Homo sapiens: one gene and its partners. The protein of the gene in region 1 purifies or fractionates together with the protein of each later gene. This does not show direct contact. Each region holds a gene or a part of one and is shown on either strand. Other genes may lie near its edges.

Evidence for each region. The genes of interacting proteins can lie anywhere in the genome.
Region 2: the proteins of SAP30BP (region 1) and POC1A purify together in Homo sapiens (affinity purification with mass spectrometry; one large-scale study listed by BioGRID and IntAct). This does not show direct contact.
Region 3: the proteins of SAP30BP (region 1) and MAGEA9B purify together in Homo sapiens (affinity purification with mass spectrometry, with the first as the bait; one large-scale study listed by BioGRID). This does not show direct contact.

Annotation. Positions count from the first base shown.
Region 1 is NC_000017.11:75,694,838-75,698,337, forward strand, and holds part of SAP30BP (SAP30-binding protein), read left to right. Parts: intron 1-3,500. UniProt on the Homo sapiens protein: Plays a role in transcriptional repression by promoting histone deacetylase activity, leading to deacetylation of histone H3.
Region 2 is NC_000003.12:52,078,075-52,081,423, reverse strand, and holds part of POC1A (POC1 centriolar protein homolog A), read left to right. Parts: intron 1-3,349.
Region 3 is NC_000023.11:149,584,660-149,588,606, reverse strand, and holds the start of MAGEA9B (melanoma-associated antigen 9), read left to right. Parts: upstream 1-1,147; 5' UTR 1,148-1,213; exon of another isoform or gene 1,214-1,245; intron 1,246-1,701; exon of another isoform or gene 1,702-1,804; intron 1,805-3,947. UniProt on the Homo sapiens protein: Not known, though may play a role in embryonal development and tumor transformation or aspects of tumor progression.

The DNA of each region.
Region 1 (3,500 bases):
CCAGTTGCTTCCAGAGCCAACTTGTCACTTTTTCTCCCTGTGCCACTTTTTGGAAATAGCTTTATTGAGGTATAATTTACATAGAGTAAGACTTGCCAATTTTACGTGTGCCATTTTATGAATTTTGACAAATGTGTATAGTTGTGTTAGCCCCACCACAATTGTGATACAGAACGCACCCATCACTCCGAAATGTTCCCTTGTGCCCCGACCGTGTTACAGGTGATTCCCTCCCTCAGCCTCAGGCAAGCTGTGATCTACACTCTCCTCACTATAGCTTTGCCTTTCTTTAGAATTTCCTATAAATCAGGATCTCCCCACCCTGGCCCTACTGACACTTAGGGCTGGATGAGTCTTTGTTGTGGGGCTGTCCTGTGCTTTGCAGGGTGTTTAGCAGTGTCCTTGGTCTCTACCCACTACGTGCCAGAGGCACTCTCCCTTCCCCAGATGTGACAGTGATCAATGTCTCCAGACATTGCCAAATGTCCCCTTGGGGCAGAATCACCCCTAGTTAAGAACCAGGGATAGAAAGGGAACTAGTGTTTTTGTCTGGCTTCTTTCACTCAGCACGGTGCTTGCAAGACTCATCCATGTAGTTGGGCATGTCCAGAGTTTCTTTTTGTAGCCAAGTAATATTTCACTGTAGGGATACACCACAGTTTGTTTACTGATTCACCCATGAGGACACAAATGGATCTTTAAGCGGCATCGTTTTGATTACTCACCATTCCTCATTGACGAGTAGCTAGTTTAGTTCCTCTTACTGAAGACGTAATTAGTTGAAGGACAGTGGCTTCCATTCATGATGCAGTGCCTGTCAGCCCCTCTACCTAAGCTTTTGTCCACTCTGGTGTCAGGACTCAGGTTGCTTACCAGGTATGGGAAGTGTGTCCATGCATGTAGACAGCCCCAGCTTTTAGAGAACAAGCAGGAGAGCAGAGAAGCCAAACCACAGGCATCTGCAGCACTGCAGCCCCTTGACAGAGCCGAGCATGCACACCCTGTCTGTGCCCTCCAGGGCCTCGCAGATGCCCACGGCTGAGCCTGGAGCAGTGGTGCTGGTGTGGCAGTGCACGTGGGTTCTCTCTGTCACTCAGGAGCTGGAGATACTCCACCGTCCCCTGGGGCCCCCCAGCTCGCTCACTCCCTGCCATCCCATAAGCCCGTCCAACTAGCTGTTCCTGCACAGATCCCTCCCTGGCAGCTGTGGGTACTCTGGGTGTTTTCTGACTTGGGCACGCACCAGGGCAAGTCACGCTGACAGCTGGCTTCTCAAGTCCTAAGTGCGGCTGCCTCTGAGAACACACCCATCAGACCCAGGCAGCAGCCACAGACCCAGCGCTGCTTCCAAGAGACTGTGGACACATCGCTTTACTGGCTTGAGGCTCTGTCTGCTTACAAGAAATGTGGGGCTCAGCTGGTCGCAGTGGCTCATGCCTGTCATCCCAGCACTTGGGGAGGCTGAGGCGGGCAGATCACGAGGTTGGGAGTTCAAAAGCAGCCTGGCCAGCGTGGTGAAACCCCATTTCTACTAAAAATCCAAAAAAAAAAAAAAAATTAGCCAGGCATGGTGGTACTTGCCTATAGTCCAAGCTACCCGGGAGGCTGAGGCAAGAGAACTGCTTGAACCTGGCAGGTGGAGGTTGCAGTGAGCCGAGATAACACCATTGCACTCCAGTCTGGGCGACATAGCGAGACTCCATCTCAATTAAAAAAAAAAAAAAGAAAAGAAACAGAAATGTGGGGTTCAAGTCTTCCACATTAGATTCATTCCAGGACTCAGAAGGGAGAGGACCACTGAAAGATTGCTTCCAAACTCTGTGTTGTACACTTCTATCTAGTTTTCCCGAATGTGTTCCTTTATTTGCCAGTTACTTCCTAGGAATTATCTTGTTTCAAGCCCTGGACTGAGGAGGGGCTCCCCTCCTCTTTTTTTTTTTTTTTTTTTGGAGACGGGGTCTGGCTTTGTCACCCAGGCTGGAGGGGCTGGAGTGCAGTGGTGCAATCTCGGCTCACTGTAAGCTCCGCCTCCTGGGTTCACACCATTCTCCTGCCTCAGCCTCCCGAGTAGCTGGGACTACAGGCGCCCACCACCACACTTGGCTAAATTTTTGTATTTTTAGTAGGGATGGGGTTTCACTGTTTTAGCCAGGATGATCTCGATCTCCTGACCTTGTGATCCGCCCGCCTCGGCCTCCCAAAGTGCTGGGATTACAGGTGTGAGCCACCGCGCCCGGCCCCTCCTCTTACACTGTACACCATGTGAGCCCCAGAGTGTGGCTGGGTTGCTGTGGCAACAGGGTCACACCCTGTTTTTCCAAAGGCTTTCCTGGCAAATGCCAAAGGGCACTCTTTGTCTCTCTGTCACAAGCACAGATAGGTTCTCTCCAGCCCAGGGAAGAAGTTAACCCTGCTTGTTTATGTGCCTAGCGCCTGCCAAGGCCCTCCTTGCTTTTGTTGTTGCTGCTTGTGAGATAGGACCAGCTCCCCCCAGCTGATTCCACTCTCCACCAGCTTCTGCAACCTCAGCCTTGGCACTTTCACCTATTCCAGGGCTGGGAAGAAGGAGGAAGTTAGAGGAGACTTGAATTCCAGCCATATCTGGGTTTCACCTTTGCTTGAGGAGTCAGGAGACCAAAGGAAGGTGCTGGGCAAAGAGAAGCACCTCGTCTCCTGCTCTTGGGCTGCACTGGCATCTGGGGCCCACAGCAGGACCTCTGATCAATGTATCACCCAGTCTCTGTCCTCTTGCCGTCACCTAAAATGGCAGATTAGTGCTCTGTTCTTGGGGCGCTTCCAGTGAGAATCCACTGACAACAGTGAAAATCAACACATGAAGTCATGTTTTTAGGATGGCCCCAGGCTCGACTCCTGTCTCAGTGTATTTGCAGTCGGCATAGGCTTATCCTGCAGCAGCTGGACTGGCAGAGTCTGGGAGCCTTGTCCCCAGCCCTCCTTGGCACTGTGTTCTTTACAGTAACTGAAACTCCAGGCAGAGATCAAAGCACCTTGTCTACTAAGCAAACATTAACCCAGCATGGGGAGAGGAGAAGGGGCTGGCTGTGCGAAGCCAGCCGGGCAGCTCAGCAGTGGGTTAGCTGGGGCCTGCACACAGTAGGTGCTCAGTAAGTGCTTGCTGAGTGTTACTGGTGTTTTGTTCATTCTTTCTCTTCATCCTGCCCCACCCTGCCCTGGCTGCTCTTTGCTCATTGTATGATCCTTTTCATGAGAGAGTGTTTTGAAGAGCGCAGACAGAATCTTAACAAATAGCGCATTGTCCCAGCGATCCAAAGCAGGACTGCAGTGCCGGGGTGGCCCAAGGCTGCGGGGAAGAGGCTGGAGAGAGCAAGGCCTGCCGGACAGTGGCAGATCTCTAAGGAAATTGTCCCCTGGGGGTTGTGGTTCTTCCCATCAGAATCAGGCCTTTTGTTCTCAGGAATGAGGTGGGCTAAGAGAGAGTTGATTGGTTTATTTTTAAAAGATCCTCAGCTGATAATGGT
Region 2 (3,349 bases), on another chromosome or scaffold:
CGAGTCTGCGTATTATCATCCTGGGCCAGGCACAGGCCAGCGTTGGGGAGGTGCTTTGTGAGAGTTTGAGTAAGGGAAGAGCGAGGGCAAGGGTCAGCAAATTTAAACAGTAAAGATTTTAGGCTTTGTGGACCATACAGCCTCTGTCAACCTGTCGCTGGACCCAGAAGGCAGCCAGAGACCATACGGAAGCCAGCAGGCGTGTCCATAAAACCTTATTTACACAAAGGGGCAGCCGGCCGTAGTTTGCTAACCCTTGGTCTAGAGAAACAACAGAATACATTCGATGGCAAACAAGTGATTTTAAGGCCAAGGCTTTCTTGAGAAGGGCCATGGCTTCCAGGAAATTGCTGGTAACAGAGTAGGAAAAGGGTTCAGAAATGAGCCCCCAGGTGAACCTCGGCAGATGTGACTTTGAAGATAAAACTTCTGGAGCCCTGCTGACCACACCCCATGAGGCTTCCTGACACTGGCCATGAGGGCCTTGACTTGGGAGGCGGACAGTATCGGGTGAGGAGTGACAGTGCCCAGGCCATAGGGTCCTCAATCCGGCTTCCTGTCACTCCGATTTAGGGAGAGAGAGGTACCTTGTTTAAAGTTGAACCTTGTCTTCAGGGGATGGGCCACCCAGCAGTGACCCAGGCGAGTTCCACAGCATGTTTTGGGGCTGATCACTTAATGCTGCAGTGGCACAAGTGCCAGTGAAAGAAGCGTTGACAGTGAAGTGATTGGGGCAGCTTCTCGTGGTGCATCCAGGAGGAGGTTCTTGTCACTATGTCCTTTCGGTTCCTATAATATTGAGTTTTCATGGCTCACATGAATTATCCTTATGACCTTTGTAATAATTCCAAACCTAAATGTTTAGCCAGGTAAGAGACTGCTTTTCAGGGGGAGGTGACACATGAGGCCTGACAATGTGAGGGGGTGGGTGACCCTGGGGGCTGTCCATTCCCACTGTGGCTGAGGTAGGAGTTTCTGCTCATTTAATTCAGAGCAGCTAGGCCAGGCAGCCTAAACCAGGACAGCAGGTGCTGCTGCTGGGTGAGGACAGGGATCCCCTAGTCTTTCCTCAGGCTGCCTGAGTTTGGGCATCAGGGCTGGAAGTGGGATGGGACACCAGCAGGCCTCTCCTTTGGCATTCTTGATGGGGACAGAGCCAAGATGCACACTACCCAGTGCTTTAGTGTGCTCACTGCAGCCAGGCCACCTAGGCTCACAGCCTAGGCTTGTCACTGATAAGCTGTGTAACTTTAGGCAAGTTACTTAATCTCACTGTGCCTCAGTTTCTTCATCTGTAAAATGGGGATGATAAAAGCTCCCACGCTGAAGGTTTGTTGAAGTTTTTGGCACACACGAGCGTCCCGTGAAAGTCAGCTGCCAAGAGAAGCCCACAGAGCAGAGGGTCAATGATCAGGGTGAACCGCCCTGAGCCCAGTCCCAGGACCTCCTGCTGGTCCCCCTCATGTTTAAGCTCCACACCCCAATTACATGGAGGACTTAAGAATGTTCCCAGGGTAGCACCAGGTCCAAGGAAAGGGAATGAGCTGCCTGGTTTCTCCAAGGTCAGCAGACAGAAGGGGCCGCACTGTGGAAGAGTTGGACCCCAGCAAGAGGGAGTTCTGGGAGATGGGCCATCTTTCCTGGCCACTTTGCCCAGGCTGCCCCTCTAGCAGCCAGAGCCCTGGACTCCTCAACCCCTTCGTCAGTTTCCCTTTACCCTGCCCCAAAGCCAGAAGCCATGGACGCTTGTGTCAGGCAAAGCAGTTTCCCTTGTTGACACCTGGCACCTGACACAGCCTGTACCTCTTTGGGGACCTTCTGAGGGGCTAGGACCAGACCTCTGGCCCCTGCTCCCCTGTACAGAGCACAGGGTGAGAGGCAGTGTGATCAAGGAACTGTTTGGAAGGTCAGCGCTCATTTTTCCTTGAATAAATGAAAGTCGTGGCTTCCAGGCCATGGAGTGTGGACCCGGGGAGGCCGCAGAGGTATTTGCCTGCAGAGCGCTCCTCCTCACCCTCCAGGGCAGGTGTGGCCTTGTCTCCAGCCTGGTGAGGACAGGCGCTGGTAGCAGGATAATTCCCGGGCTGGACGGAGCATGAGGCGACGAGAGCAGCCTGCTTGGCTGGGCCCCGCTGGGAGTTGGGCCACTAGGCAGCAGGTGGAAATGGCAGTGGCCTGTGTACACCGAGGTAGCATGTATTTTCTGAACCCTCGTATGGGTATGTGGGGATGTGCTTACTTTTTGTTGTGAACCGACAGGTAAAGATCATATACATTCTGAACAAGGCCACGTGATATGGCTCCAAACCAGTCTGTGCCAGGGGTACTCCCCACACACCCCTTCTGCCACCTCAGATGCTCTCCTGCCCTCCTCCCACAGCTCCCGTGCAGCTGGGGAAGCACGGTGGCACTGTGATGGCCTGTCCTGGCTGCTCTGGGCCTGTGGCCCAGACAGACTCCCTGCAGGTGGCCTGCCAGCCCTCCTGCCTGTGTGTGCCACCAGCCCTGAGTGTGTCTCCACTTTGCCACTTGGATGCCCAGTGGGGCATTTCCATCATGGGGGAACCCCTTCCTTCCCCTTGTAGAGGGAAGGCACACCAGCAGCATTTCAGATTTCCATGTTTCAGCCGGGCGCAGGGGCTCACGCCTGTAATCCCAACATTTTGGGAGGCTGAGCCGGGCGGATCACGAGGTCAGGAGATCGAGACCACGGTGAAACCCCGTCTATACTAAAAATACAAAAATATTAGCTGGGCGCAGTGGCGGGTGCCTGTAGTCCCAGCTACTCGGGAGGCTGAGGCAGGAGAATGGCATGAACCCGGGAGGCGGAGCTTGTCGTGAGCCGAGATCGCGCCACTGCACTTCAGCCGGGTCGACAGAACGAGACTCAGTCTTAAAAAAAAAAAAAAAAAAAAAAAAAGAGATTTCCATGTTTCACTGTCTATGAGGAGTCACCATTTTCTGTGAAAATGAGGTCCTATGCTTTATTAAGAAAATTTGATTTTTAAGAAAAATATAAAAATTTTTAAGAAAGTAGGATTTTTTTTTTTTAACTACATGGAGCAAAGAGTGCCAGACAGCATTCTAATGTACAGAAATCCAAAAAGCATCCTGCTCTCCCAGGCCTTCTCCTGGCTCAGAGTGGGGGCAGCTGGGATCACGTGTGCTGGGAAGGGCCTGGTTGGACTTCTTTCTCCCTGATGGTGGCCACCACGAGGCACCTTGGCAGAGAAGGAACAGGGGAAGCTGAGACCAAACACAGAGATGACACAGCTCCTCTGAAGCTAGGCTGGAGGGGGAGAAACTGCCTTGAGGGGTGTTGGGCCTCATAAAAGCCTGTTTGTCTACT
Region 3 (3,947 bases), on another chromosome or scaffold:
AGCCCTGGAGTAATATCAGGACACCAGGAAATTTGAGTTGATTGAGACACTATGGCTCCAGAGTTCTGCTAACAACCACCTGAAACAAACTTAGTAGGAGAAGACCAGCCTTCCAAAAAATTATTATTTTAATGGAATATAAAGAATGAACTAGGAATAGAATAGTAAGTATGTGTGAAGGCCACATACTATGAGTAGATATTAATAAAATATGTGTGCATATATATAGTATAAAGTCTAGAAATACAAACGAATATGTAGCTAAAGATATATACATGTAAGTAAATATAAGATATAAAGATATATATGCGTGTATGTATACATATAAGCATAGATGTATATAATGTCTAAAACAGGTATGTATATAAACGTAGATATAAACAAAATGTACAATACCATATATAATGTACACATACAGTGTAAAATTTATTACCATGTGAATGAGAATTAAAATATGAAAATCGCTAATCTGGACTCTGCTGTGTTCGATACCTTCAAAACACATGGCTTCTCCAAATCTCTTGCTGCTGCTCAGCCTCTTCCGTGTAAAAATAAATCTTTTAGGACAAAAGGTTTGCAAAGTCTAGCTCTGGCTGGGGAGGAGCCCCCATGGGATGGTGTGCATCTTCTCTCACAGGTCCTACAATCACAGGTGCTGCAGCCCCCCAGGGAGCATCTAGCCTGGGACCCGCAGCCATTCTCTGCAACGCGTGCAGCTGGGCAAATGCTCAAAGGTGACATAAACAGATCATCTCCCACACATCACTTCATCAAAGAGCCAGGAGCCAGGAGGAGAACCCTCCTGAGAGGGGACTGAAGGTCCAACCTCCCCACATAGAGGGGCCACAGAATCCAGCTCAGCCCTTCCTGTCAGCCCTGGAAGACCCTGGCAATGTTGTCACCCCGACCACACCCCTCCCCTCACTGCCACCTCATGTGACTGGGAGTCAGAGACTTGGTCCGAGAGGAGCAGACCCAATGGGCAGAGAATGGGGATCGAGACCCAGGCATCAAGGTCAGGACCCCCTGAGGGATGACTGAGGGCCCCTATCCCCATCCCCACCCCTACTCCGCCAGAACCCGGTTCAGCCCCTACTGGCAACCCAGGGAAGCTCCAGGCTTGGGGGCCGGATGTGACGTCACTGACGTGCGCACTGGGGGTCAGAGAGAAGGGAGAGGCCTCCTTCTGAGGGGCGGCTTGATACCGGTGGAGGTAAGCTGGCCGAGGCTCTGTGAGGAGTCAAGGTGAGGTGCTGAGGGAAGACTGAGGATGTCCCCACCCCAGATAGAGGACCCGAAAGAACCAAGTGCCGTCTCTGCTCCCAGCCCTGGACCACCCGGGGGCCGATCTGGGGCTGACTTGTGAGGCTGGGCCGACCCCCTCCCTCCGCCGCTCAAGCTGCTGGGCACTCTGGAGTGAGAGCTTGGTGTGACCAGGGCAGGGCTGGTTAGGAGAGGGCAGGGCCCAGGCTCTGCCGGGCATCAAGGCCAGGACCCTGAGGGAGGCTGGGCCCCCCCAACCCAACCATGACCTACAGCCCCAGGTTCCCCAGCCCCATCCTCAGCTCCACTCTACACCCCACCCCACCCCACCCCACCCCACCCCAAACTCCACCCCACCCCCCCAACTCTCCCGCGGCAGAATCTGGTTCCGCCCCTGTTGTCAACCCAGGGAAGCCCCAGGTGCCCGGATGTACGGCCAGTGACTCCCACACTGGGGGTCAGAGAGTAGCGGGGGCCTCGCTGTGAGGGGCGGGTCGATATCGGTGGAGGGAAGCGGGCCCAGGCTCTGTGAGGAGGCAAGGTGAGACCCTGAGGGAGGACTCAAGACCCCCCGCCCCAGATAGAGGACCCCAAATAATACAGCGCCGCCCCTGTGCCAGCCCTGGACCACCCCGCGGGGTCGGGCGTATCAGGCTGGGCCCAGGCTCTGACTGGCATCAAGGTCAGAACCCTGAGGGAGGGCTGAACGCCTCCACACCCCTAACCCAGCCACCACCACCATGACCTACAGCCTCAGGTTCCCCACCTCCATCCTCACCCCCCCCCCACTCCACCCCACCCCCAAGTCTCCCGTGGCAGAATCCGGTTCGGCTCCTGCTGTCAACCCAGGGAAGCTCCGGGTGCCCGGATGTAAGGCCTCTGACTTGCGCACTGGGGGTCAGAGAGTAGCAAGGGCTTGGTTCTGAGTGGTGGCTGAAGATCGGCAGAGGGAAGCGGGCCCAGGCTCTGTGAGGAGGCAAGATGAGACGCTGAGGGAGGACTGAGGACGCCCCCACCCCAGATAGAGGGCCCCAAATAATCCAGCAGCACCCCTGCTGCCAGCCCTGAACCACCCCGGGGGCGGACTTCTCAGGCTGTGGGCCACCCTTCGCCACCCCACCACTTAAGCCCCAGGGGACTCTGGGTCAGAGCTTGGTGTGACCAGGGCAGGACTGGTTAAGAGAGGGCAGGGGCCAGGCTCTGCCAGGCATCAGGGCCAGGACCCTGAGGGAGGGCTGAGGCCCCATAGAGGGAGTCACTGCCCCTGCAGTGGACCCTGGGAAGTTCCGGGCATGGCGGTCAGGCAAGCGGATCGTGATATCTGCATCCTGGGCTGACCGAGGGAAGGGGCTTGGTATCGTTAGCGTGGCCGCGGGAGAACAGAGGGAGGGCCCAGGTCCTGCTGGGAGACAAGGGAGGCCTGAGGGGACCCAGTACCCCAGGACAAGGGGCCCACCCCGCCCCTATCTGAGACCGAGGCCCCTCCTCATTCAGCCTCGGGAATCCGACAGATAGAGACTCAGGTCCACAGAGGGGTGGGGCCCAGCCCTCTAGGAGACCAGGGAAGGAACAAGACGGAGGACAGAGGGGACCCCGGAGTCCAGCTCAGTGGGGATCTTGGCCTGGGCGATCCCGGGCACGGTGGCCGCATGTGGTGCATTGTGGCTGGTGGGATCGGGTGTCAATGGGAACAGGGCTGTGGTATGAGGAGTGGGGCCTCAGGTGAGCAGAAGGAGGAGTCCCAGAGGCCTGAGGAAGGATTCACCAGACCTCTCATCCCAGACCTAGGAAACCTGCCCCTGCCGTCAGTCTTGGAAGGCCCCAGGCAGGACGGTGAGGAAGGGAAGTGCCCCCTCCACCCCCAACACACACTTTCTCAAAGAGGGTCTAAGGGAGAAATTGGCCTTGGTCTGCAAGACTCACCTCTGGTTCAGCAAAATGGAAGGGGCCAGATTCTGTCAGAAGCAAATATGAATACCTAGAGGACACCCAGACCGACGAGGCCCCCTGGAACCTGCTCCTTTGGTCAGCCTTGGGTATCTCATGCATGAGTGACCATGAGGTGGCCCCTCACTTCTGCCTCCCGGGTCTCCGGGAGGTGGGGGCCTTGGTCCGAGGGGTTTCCTCAGCTCAGCAGAGGGAGCCACACCTGGTCAGCACAGGGTGGAATCCAGGGTCTTCCAGGAGTGACGGGGAGGAAGTTTGGTGAGGACTGAAGGTAAGAAGGTACCTCCACGCTCTCAAAAAAGAAAGGACCTCACAGACACTGGTGTCACCTGTTCTCAGCCCCAGGTGGCCCCAGGCAGGAATGGCATGAGGCATGCTCTCATTTCTCCCACGTGACTGGGGGTGAGAGGTCTCAGGGAGGTGAGTACCTTGATCCCAGGGGGCACTGAGAGATCCAACAGAGGGCTCCACACCTGGTCAGTAGAAGGAGGACTCCCAGGATCAGCAGGACCCAAGGTGTGCCCCCTTCATGAGGAATGGAGGTACCCCCAACGCAGAAAGAAGCCACCCCACAGAGTCTAGGTGAACTCTGTTCTTAGATCTGGGGGCGGGGGGGGGCCTGATCAAGGATGGTGCTAAGTGGCAAGCTCATTTGTACCATGGCAGGAAGTTGAGGAACCCTCAGGGGGATGAGGCGTTGGTGTAAAGGGAGATGTCTGCTCATCTCAAGGGTTTGA